Homo sapiens: one gene and its partners. The protein of the gene in region 2 purifies or fractionates together with the protein of the main gene of each other region. This does not show direct contact. Each region holds a gene or a part of one and is shown on either strand. Other genes may lie near its edges.

Region 1 (3,651 bases), on a different chromosome or scaffold from region 2:
ATTTCATTAGTAAAGGTATTTATGGGAAGTGGAAAACAAACCTCCGATGGTTTCCTTTTGCACCTAGAGTAACAGTCCTAACTAACATGGCCTCTTCCACACCCTCCTAAACAGGCCAAGTTCATCTGGCCTCAGGGCTTTTGCATTTGCTGTAGCTCCTACCCGGAATACTTTTCCCTCAGATCCTTGCAGGGGGAGCTCCTGCTTGTCATTCAGGTCTGGCTTAAATGTCTCTCTTCAGAGAGGCCTCCCTGACCACCTGCAGCTAACGAATCCTGTACCCCCACCCCCACATACACCCTCTCTACCCCTCATCCCCAGTTATCACCATCCACCAGTCTGTTTCCTTCACAGGACTTAATGCATAACATGTGGTTACTTTATAAATTTGATGTGTTTGATTTTTGTCTCCTCCACCATCATATAAGACTCACGAGGCTGGGCACCGTGGCTCACACCTGTAATCCCAGCACTTTGGGAGGCTGAGGTGGGAGAATCACTTGAGGTCAGGAGTTCGAGACCAGCCTGGCCAACATAGTGAAACCCCATCTCTACTAAAAATACAAAACTTAGCCAGGTATAGTGGCAGGCGCCTGTAATCCCATCTACTCAGGAGGCTGAGGCTGGAGAATCGCTCGAACCCAGGATGCAGAGGATGCAGTGAGCCAAGATCATGCCATCACACTCCAGCCGGGGTGACAGAGCAACACTCCATCTCAAAAACAAAAACAAAAACAAAACCACCAGGGCAAGGTTAATGTCAGCTTACTCACTGTTGTAACTGAAAAGGATCAGAATATGCCATCCCAGGGCCAGAAGTGGTGGTTCACACCTATAGTCCCAGCACTTTGGGAGGCTGAGGCAGGAGAATCATTTGAGGTCAGGAGTTCAAGACCAGCCTGGCCAACATGGTGAAACCCTGTCTCTACTAAAAATACAAAAATTAGCTGAGTGTGGTGGTGCGCACCTGTAATCCCATCTACTCAGGAGGCTGAGGCTGGAGAATTGCTTGAACCCAGGAGGCAGAGGATGCAGTGAGCCAAGACCATTGCACTCCAGCCTGGGCAACAGAGCAAGATGCTGTCTCAAAAAAAAAAAAAAAAAAAAAAAAAGAATTATTTTGAGCTCAAGGTACTTGAGCAGCAGCCAATACAGGAAGAGCTCTTTGCCTCCCCTTTTCTGCCTAAAAGCAGGGCACACATTTCCCTTTGTAAAGGTGACATAAATTTCCATTTGCAAAGGTGTACCCCTCTACCTTACTTTATCTGCATAACAAACCTTACTAAACCACCCTTATCTACCATACATTTCCTAGTCACTTTCCTGAAATTTACTGACCCCTAAGAGTCCAATACTTTTCTTTTGTCTCCTCACTTCTCCACAATTTATCGCCCTTTGTTAAAATGTTACGTAAGCTCCTGGGTCTAACTGCCTCTTTGGATTTTCATTTCTTTTCTATGGAGACCCCTTACAGTAAAAAAATACATATATATAGTAACATTAAATAAAATCTATATGCCTTTTCTCCTATTAATCTGTCTTTTGTCAGTTTAATTCATAGGCTCTATCACAGAACCTAACAGGGTAGAAGAAAAGATATTCCTCCCCTACATGACAAAAGCCAACATTACTAAGCTTTGACCTGGGCCACGCAATATCATGAGCATCCTACCTGCCCTTTCTTGTCAAATCTCCATGCCTTATGACACAGCTACTAGTGTTATCCCTATTCCACAGATGAGAAAACAGATAAGAGAAGGGTCAAGTGAGTTGCCCAAGGCCCAACATAGAAAGAGCCCCAGCAGGGAGCAGGGTACCCCTCTACTCCCAGCGTCTACTCCCAGAACCCAACACAGCCTCTCCCTTTGTGGGCCCTAAATAGATACTTGCCAAATGAGTAAATGAATCACTGAATACATGAATGATATGCACCACAATATTGAGAGAGGCTGTCTTCAGGTGGCAAAATGATTTCCATTTTCTTCTCTCTGTATTTTCTCTGTGTTTTCTTCAGTGGTCATGCGATACATGTATAACTTAAAGTAAAACAAATGCCTGTTTTAAAAGAAATTCAAAGGTTGTGGGTAATGTCTAGGTTCAGGAATATTTTTCTTCAATTTCGGGAGACTGTTATTTTCCTACTTAATTTAACCATTGTTTTTCTAGGGAAATTGAATAAAAAGCCCACATTTCCAAAGCTCACTCCAAGTCTGCCCACTTCAAACAATGAAGAGAGGGGAGTAATGAGAGCTGGCTCCCGCCTTGTATGCTAATGGCCGGGATTCTGGGATGCATACCAATCAGCCAGCGACTAGAACCAGGACTTTTACAGAGAGGAGGGCACTCTGGGGCCAGGCTCTCAAGGAGAAAGAGGGGTTCCAAAACTCAGAAATGCCACCTCATCTTGGGCCCAACATGCCAACATGGGCTGGCACCATCACAAACCACCTGCACTGCCCTGGACTGGGGATGTATCTGCAAGAAGGTGGTGTTGGGGCCTGGTCTGAGACCATCCTCTCAACCAACAGGCCAGTGGGAAGATGAACCCCATGGCAGGGAGCTCAGTGCTGGCTCTAACCAAGAGGTGGGCAGACCCTGGGCCTGTGGCCAAGTGGTCAATTATCCTTCCCCATTTTCCATAGCATATGGGCACTGCTGCTAGGGGCTGTCAAAGGCACAGCCGGGCCAGGCCCTGGGAGGGTTGGCGCTGCTCAAGGAAAGACACAAGAGTGGAGAGGCAGGACTCCGGGGCGAGCAGAATGTGGTGCTTCTAACTCTTGGTTGCTCAACCCTGGGCAAGTTCAATGGAGGCAAAACAGAGATAATGATGCACCCCACCTCTTGGAGTAGCTGAGAACTGAGAAAGCTCCCACGAGCCATGCACTACCAAGGTGCCTGCCACTCTGCAATTATGAGCCATTAGTATTAGCTCTTTCCTGACACCAGGCCTAGGGAGCCCGTGTGGGTACCAGAATTCTATTCTCATCCTTGCCCCTGAGCCACAAGGTAACAAACCCAGCTATGACCAGACTGGGCCTTGCCAACACTGAATTAAAAAAACATACATTAACTCCGAACTAAGAAAGGCAAAGTGTGCTGAGATTCCAGGCATGTGATGAATCTCTCCCTCCCCTCCTCAAAGGGAAAAGGAAAACCGCATAAAGGAGGGGAGCACGGGACTGCAGAAAGATCTCAGGGCCTGCCGGGTTCAAATCCTGCCACTTACAAACACAGTGCCCTTGGATAAGTCTCTGAGACTCAATTTCCTCATCGATAAGATCGGAAAATAGGACGTACTTGCAGGATCGGCATGGAAATTAAATGAATTGATGCATGAAAAATATCTGGCACCTATAGGCATAAAGTCAAAATCAGTTGCCTTTAAGCAAACAAGTTCTCAATTATCTGCCTAAATGAAGGACAGAAGCAGCTTTTCTGGTATCAATTAGCAATGGGGGGAGAACAGGAGACCCCTCTTCCCAATTAAGTTTTGTGCTTGATATTAACATGGATTTTTTTTGAGAATCCACCAGCCACAGATGCAGGGGCTGGAAGACCAGCAAGCTTCAGGGACAGCAGGAAACTACCAAGAAACCTCAAAGATTTTTAGGGAAGCAGGGTGATCCACACAGCACAAGGCCCCTGACAGGT
Region 2 (3,651 bases):
CTCGGGGGGCTGAGGTGCAAGAATCACTTGAACACGCGGGGCGGAGGTTGCAGTGAGCCAAGATTGCACCACGGCACTCCAGCCTGGGCAACAGAGAGCAACTCCATCCCAAAAAAATAAATCAAAACAAAACAAAAACAAAAATATGTTCAAATAGAACATTGTTGAAAAAAATGTATAAAGTAAATGAATGTATAAAAATAAAAACAAAGTTTATTGTCATAGATTGAAGGAGACTAAGAAGATACAACGAGTAAATGCAATGAAGCACCCTGGATTGATCTTGGATAAGAAAAGGAGCATCTGTTAAAACACTGGGAAAATCTAAACAAAGACTATGGTTTAGTTAATGGTATTACACTGCTGATAATTTCTTAGTTTTGATACATATATTATGGTTATGTAAGACGTTAGTGTCAGGGGAAGCTGGGAGAAGGGCATGCAGGATCTCTCTGTAATAGCTTTGCAACTCTTCTGTAAATCTAAAATTATTTTAAAATAAAAAGCTAAAGGGAAAAAATTTTTCCTTTCAAGCCATCATCCATTCCCACCTTCCCCGAGGGTAACTACTATTAATTTGGTATTTGTCTTTCCATACCTTTTCTGAGCATAAACAAATACATATATCATATTGTTTTTTAAATTCTTAACAAAAATGAGACCATCTACTACATGCTCTTCTGCAGCTTGTATTTTCTCACAACCCACTGAAGACATAATACTTATCAAAGTACAAAGACATCTGCTTCCCTTTCTATCAGGAAGGTGAAAAATTAATTGCGGTTTTGACCATTATGGCAAAAAACCGCAATTACTTTTGCAGCAACCAAATATAGATCATTTCATTGTATGAATGTACAGGATTATGTTTAAAACATGCACACAGAACAAAATCCAGGAAATTTTAGTATTTTGCTTGATGTAAACAGTGGAATATTGGCTTAATCTAAGCTTATTTTTCCCAGTGTGAAAGGATGAACTTTTTTTTACCTCGTCACATGCTGAGCACCGTGGTTTGAGCAGTTCTGCATGGTGCCTGCCACAGTGAATTTTTCCATCCTGATAAAAATAGATGAGGTCGACCAGCAGCTCATTACACGTGAAACAGACAAAACAGGATGGGTGCCAGCACACACCAGGGCCCGCACGGGAGGCGAACACTGCAACTTCACCTCCATTTATCTTCAAACCACACTACAAACAAATGGGTTTGAATGTAAAAGGATCATTTTTTAAAGACAGGATTCTCAGGCTTTCCTACTTTAGGATAAATCTCGAATTTGTCAGGAATGTATTTATTTTTGCTACCTCTTTTAGTGATTAAATAGCTCTTTAATGCTGGATTACTGGTGATTCTCCACTGTAAGGCACGTGTCTCAGACATACTACAACTATTTCTAAGGACGGTGTAATCTGATTCACACAAATAGTGGTTTTCCTGTGCCAGCCTCCTGCTGGATACATTTCCTACTCTGAGAACTGCCAGCAAAGATCTGAATGTCTTCATTATGTTTCTGCATCTTTTGAATACGAGATGTATCCTAGCACCTACCTCCATGCCAGGATCCTACCAAAGGCAGGATTTCACCCAATGTTTGCATAAGGGTGACTGACTCCTGCTGTCATACACAGCAGTGTAGCTAGTTACAAATATGAAACATGATTTGCTATTTAATAAAAAGCTAGGCTGTCTTTCTCTCATTTTCTGGAGGCTTTCAGGACCCACACCTCTGCTAGTCCAGTCACCTACCCCCGACTGTCCACCCCATCCACATCACTGCCACAAGCTACGCATCAGAGAAGGGGCTGCTCACCTGCTCACACACAGCATGCATGACTGCTCTGGACAGAAGCTTAATTGTTCCTCTTCCCAGTGCTTCTTTCTTCCGCTGAGCACTGAACACCTGCAACTCTTTTTTCTCCTCTTCACTCAAAGACTGGCAATACCGTACCTTCACAGAAAGCAAAACAGAAACACCACACTGAGTGCACAGTCTTTCTCACCAGTTCTCTACTTCCAGAGTTAGGGTTTCAGGAAGTGAAACAGTAAGTTTAGCTCGCCTGTGTCACACCCCCACGATTTTAAAATGACACCATATCTGAATTTTACAGCCTCTCTAGAAAAAGGGAAATGCAATGTGAAGGAATACTTTTTTTTTAAATAAGAAATGTTTAATTGAAAACCCTTATCAACACAGAATTAAAAAATATATATAGGACATTAACCTTTCCACAAAAGGTTTAAACTTGTTAATTGCCACTTTTACTCTCCATTCTACATGCACTCAACTCAACTGCAGGCCTGAATGACCATAAAGCATTCACTCTGGATGCAGGGGCTGGGAAATCTCAGGAATTTGTAGGTTCCTGATCATTGGTGGGTGGCTGCAAACACTATAAAAACCAACTTGTGTTAAGTTTATTACACTGATACTCTTTTCTCTCTTTCTCTCAAAGAATGGAAAGCTGTATTCTCTGGCCAAATTTTAACTAAAGAAAGGCAAAAGGGAGCCCTCGCCAGTGAGGAGTTGGGGTTTATGAGCAGCATCTCAATGCTTCTCATGCATTTTTTCTTCTTTTTTCTAATTAGCCTTCTTCCTGCTATTTTACCTCATTATCATGTGGTGGTAACTGGTACAAAAGCTGTTTAATCCGATGCTTCTCTCCGGGGCTGTTAACGTAAGGAACTTTTTCCTCTGGTAAGCAAGCAAAATAGAGCTGGATCTGCAAAAGAGACAGTGAGAATGGCATCAACATACAGAACTGAGCATCTCAGCTCACTTAATCTTTAAAAGTTACCTTTCCCTAGGTACAGGGTTTGGCCTCTTGTAGCTAATGAGAAGACCAGCTGAGCCAACTCAGCAGAACTGCAAACCTTCAGATAACTAGCACCCAGCTGCTAAATTGCTCTTCAGGAATGTAATTTGTAGTGACAATTAGGGACATCATAAATTATGCACCATAAAATATGCACATTTAAGACCACTCTTCCCGGTGGTGTGGCTCACGCCTGTAATCCCAGCACTCTGGGAGGCTGAGGCTGGTGGATCACCTGAGGTCAGGAGTTCGAGACCAGCCTGACCAACACGGTGAAACCCTGTCTCTACTAAAACTACAAAAATTAGCTGGGCGTGGTGATGCACGCCTGTAATCCTAGCTACTCGGGAGGCTGAGGCAGGAGAATCGCTTGAACCTGGGAGGCAGAGGTTGCAGTCACCCAAGATCGCGCCACTGCACTCCAGCCTGAGTGACAGAGCAAGAATCCGTCTCAAAAAAAAAAAAAAGACTACTCCTCCTCAGCCAGTCTTCCAAGGGGTCAGACAAGAGATCAGCAAGAGAGAGAGTCCTGGGTGAATCCTGCAAATTACTACACAGACTGTGTGAAATGGTCCAAAATCCAGCCACTACACGAACACATTTAATTTGCTCTCTGAATTTTACACAACACAAAGACAAAGGCTGTTTTGCTAAATGTTGTAAACTCTTCTTTATCAGGTTCTCTCAAACATCAGCTTTCTTTGCTTCCATGAGTGCTATTTTCTGAATACCTGAAGTCAGCCTCCCCAGGCAAACTGGAGAGAAGCCACATTGAGCTGTACTTTGCTCACTCTGAAAGGAAAACTTAATTTCTGCTTGTTTGTTTTTCTGATG
Region 3 (3,651 bases), on a different chromosome or scaffold from region 2:
CTTGCTGAGCCCCCGGCCTGCCGGGCTGTCCTTCAGGGAGGGCGTCCGCACGATGCGGCTGCGGGAGGGCACCAGACGCTGGTAGCGCAGGGGAGTGCCCTCCTCCTCGTAAGCAGGGCCCGGGGCTGCGCGGCGCAGCTCCCACTCGCCAGGCGGCAGGGGGCTCTCAGCCACCACCACGTACCGCCCCGCCGGGAAATAGCCAGGCGGCAGCAGTAGCTTGGGGTGGTGGGCGACCAGCTCTCTGCTGCCGGCTGGGACCCAGGCCCCGCGGTGACGATGGGTCTTGGGAGGGGAGAGAGGCTGCAGAAAGGAGATGTCGGGGCTGCTGCTGCCCGGCGAAGTGGGGTGGGAGATGCTGGAGACGTCAGAGCCACTGTCTTCTGAGCAGGAGTGGCAGGCGGCGTGGGGCAGCGGGGGCTTGGTCGCGGGAAAGCAGGAATCTGGCACTGTCACCGTGTAGTGAGTGGGGCGGCGGCGGGGAAAGGCGCTGCGACCTCGGCCCTCAGGACCCGCCCGGAAGGAATCCACCCTGAAGAGGGAAAGAGAGGCATTCTGAGTGTGGGGGGCAGAAACTCCACACTGGGGTTGGGGCGGGAGGTGGAGTTAAAACAGGTGAGTCCTGCTCTACCTCAAGGCCCAAGCATGGCCCTCGTGCAAGGGTCTTAGGTCAAGTCTCCCAAAGCAAACCAACAAACCCTCTGCCGGGCTGCGTGGGTGCCAACGCATTCCTTCCCTGTGTGCAAAAGTGTTCCTGCTGCATTCACAAGCTTGTGATTCGTGTAAAGTGTGCTACATCAAGTAGCACATTAAGTACTTTTTTTAAAGTACTACATTAAGTACTTTTTTTAAAGTACTACATTAAGTACTTTTTTAAAGTACTACATTAAGTACTTTTTTTAAAGTACTACATTAACTACTTTTTTTAAAGTACTACATTAACTACTTTTTTTAAAGTACTACATTAAGTACTTTCAGCTTAGGTACACCGTGTCCAGTGGCAGATCATCCACAGCATCTGTTCGGTAGGCACTGCCAGGTACCTTACTTGAACGTGTAAAAGCTGTCATGTGGTACCCAGAGCAGTTACCTGCAGCCCAAGACCGGCAGGGGCTGAAATCCAGCCTTCACTTCACTCTACTAATGCACCCAGGTATGGGGCTGTGTCTGCCTTTTCCTAATTTGCACAAAGGCATGGTTTGTAAAATGGCCCTCGTAGCATGTAAAATATAAAATCTATTGCTGTGTGGTGGCGGACGCCTGTAATCCTAGCTACTCAGGAGGCTGAGGCAGGAGAATCGCTTGAACCTGAGAGGCGGAGGTTGCAGTGAGCAAAGATTGCGCCACTATACTCTAGGCTGGATGACAGAGCAAGACTCTGCCTCAAAAAAAATTTAAAAATTAAACAAAATCCATTGCTTTACTTGAGAGCAGTTGTCCCAAGCTGCCCCCAGTTCAGTGCTGCCTGACCAGCCAATTTAAGCTGATGGAGAATTCAGCAGTGCTTTCATGGTGCCCCAGTCCCCATATGGTATGGCCAATACTGCCTGTCAACGCTTAGCCATTTAAACTATTACCAAGTAGCAGATGACTTAGAAAGTAACATACAGTCAATTCTCATTATTTGCAGATTCAGTATTTGTAATTTTCCTAGTTGCTAAACTTTATTTTTAATCCCCAAAGCAATATACACAGTGCTTTCATGGTCATTCTTGGACACTGCAGAAAAGTGACAAATTTGAGTCTCTTTAAGTTCTGAGGTTAAACGAGGCCATGTTCTGCCCTCATGTTTCAGTTCTCATGCTGTAAGTGCACAGTGTCCTTTTTGTGGCATATTTATGTACTGTGTGTGTTTTTGCTTTGATTAGTGATTCTGCTGTTTAAAATGCCCCCAAATACAGTGCCAAAGTGCTGTCTACTGTTCCTCCCTAAGGCATACTGGGAAAAGGCTGTGGTGTGCCTTGTGGAGAAAATATGTGTGCTAGGTAAGCTTCATCTGGGTATGAGTTACAGTGCTGTTGGCCATGAGTTAATGAATCAACAACCCATATTAAGTAAGGTGTCCTTAAGCAGAAACTCACATAACATAAGGTTATATATTAATCAGTTGATGCAAAATGTCGTGACCAAAGGCTCACGGGAACCTAACCCTATATTTCCCCAGGGGCAAGGGTTCAGTATTTGCTAATTCAGGATTTGCGTCAATTTTACTTTATAGAACATAACTACCACAGATAATGAGAATCAACTGTGCATCAATTGAAAAAGTGAGTTGCCTATTGTCAGTGACCAATAATAATCTACCAGCACAAGGAAACATGGCAAGGGTAGAAAATTTGAATCAAGTTATGCAAAAAGACAAAACTAGAGTCTTTGGAAGAAAACCACTTGCTTCATGGATGGCCTTTGGCTTAGTGGGGTGCAGTGCATTCTCTGTCAAGAGGCGCCCCAAGAAGAGATCCTAAGAGAAGTCAAGGCACTAGCCATGTGTCACCCAGGGTTGTCCCACCTGTGTCCTGGGAGCTCCCACCCTCCAACGATAAGCTCTAAGTGGGTCCCCCATCTCTCTGGGGAAGCTGTCTCTTACCTCAGAGACTGCGACTGGCCCCTCCTCCCCTGTATCTCAGGGGTGGCTGGGGCACTGGTGCGGCCCTGCCACTGGCCAGGAACACCACGGATGGGAACCACGTGGTAGGAGGCAGGCTCCAGAAGCCACAGGCTGGAGGCACTGGGCCCATCCTGTGGTGTGGTGGCTGGGCTGCTGCAAAAGGATTAGAGACAGGTCAGTGGCAGGAATGCCTCCATTCAGGGGCTCAAGAGGTGCAGAAGAATGGGGATGCAGTGGAAGGGGCTCCCAAAGTTAGTAGGGCAAACTGCCAGCACCCTTGGGGAACTATCAAGGCTCACACCTCCATCCCACGACTGCAGGAGCTCTCTCCTCCACCTTTCCACTTTTCCATCTGCCCAGCCTATAGCCATCCCCAGCATAGCTCCCACCGACTCCCTGCCCTGCCCTGCCCTTCTCCCTTCCCCCTGATCCTGACCTGGACTCGCTCCAGGGCTCAGAAGACTTCCTGGGCTTCTCATAGGGGTGGTCCAGGCTGGTTTCCTTCCAGGGGCTGTTCTGGACTGGAGCCCGTTCTGGGCTCCCAGCCTCAGGTCCTGTTGGCTGCAGACCCTCAAGGGTTTGGGGTGGGAGAGGCCGAGAAGGTGGGGCTGGAGACTCTGGAGGAGGTTTTGGCACTTGGGATTCCTCTGCAGGAGTAAAAGAAACCTGGTAAGGCCAGAGGCTGGGGGAACCGGCCCAACAAGAACCTCCACAAACCACAGCCCATGCCTCGCCGCTCTCCCTCCCATGCTGGCTTGTGCAGCTGCTGCAGGCCATGGCTCCAGCCCTAGATGCTCAAACATGTTTTCTTCTCCTTTGGGACTTACTTCTTCCCACACAGCCCTATTTTATGCCTTCCTCCTTCAAGAAGCCTCCCAGATTGACTCTCTTGGGCTTACAGTGCTCCACTTTCTAACCTTTGTTCCTGGTACCATGTCTGCAGTTATCTTTTGTTTACCTATTTTTCTTGTTCCTGCCATGCCCATATGGCCTATTTATTTCCTTATTGGCTTGGGCACTCCCCTGGGCAGGACTGCAACAGC

What was found.
Region 1: the proteins of PRICKLE1 (region 2) and ARHGEF10L purify together in Homo sapiens (co-immunoprecipitation; one large-scale study listed by IntAct). This does not show direct contact.
Region 3: the proteins of PRICKLE1 (region 2) and INAVA purify together in Homo sapiens (co-immunoprecipitation; one large-scale study listed by IntAct). This does not show direct contact.

Annotation. Positions count from the first base shown.
Region 1 is NC_000001.11:17,546,108-17,549,758, reverse strand, and holds part of ARHGEF10L (rho guanine nucleotide exchange factor 10-like protein), read right to left. Parts: intron 1-3,651.
Region 2 is NC_000012.12:42,467,636-42,471,286, forward strand, and holds part of PRICKLE1 (prickle-like protein 1), read right to left. Parts: intron 2,725-3,651; coding exon 2,611-2,724; intron 1,953-2,610; coding exon 1,815-1,952; intron 1,195-1,814; coding exon 991-1,194; intron 1-990. UniProt on the Homo sapiens protein: Involved in the planar cell polarity pathway that controls convergent extension during gastrulation and neural tube closure.
Region 3 is NC_000001.11:200,908,334-200,911,984, reverse strand, and holds part of INAVA (innate immunity activator protein), read right to left. Parts: intron 3,256-3,651; coding exon 3,045-3,255; intron 2,762-3,044; coding exon 2,588-2,761; intron 533-2,587; coding exon 1-532. UniProt on the Homo sapiens protein: Expressed in peripheral macrophages and intestinal myeloid-derived cells, is required for optimal PRR (pattern recognition receptor)-induced signaling, cytokine secretion, and bacterial clearance.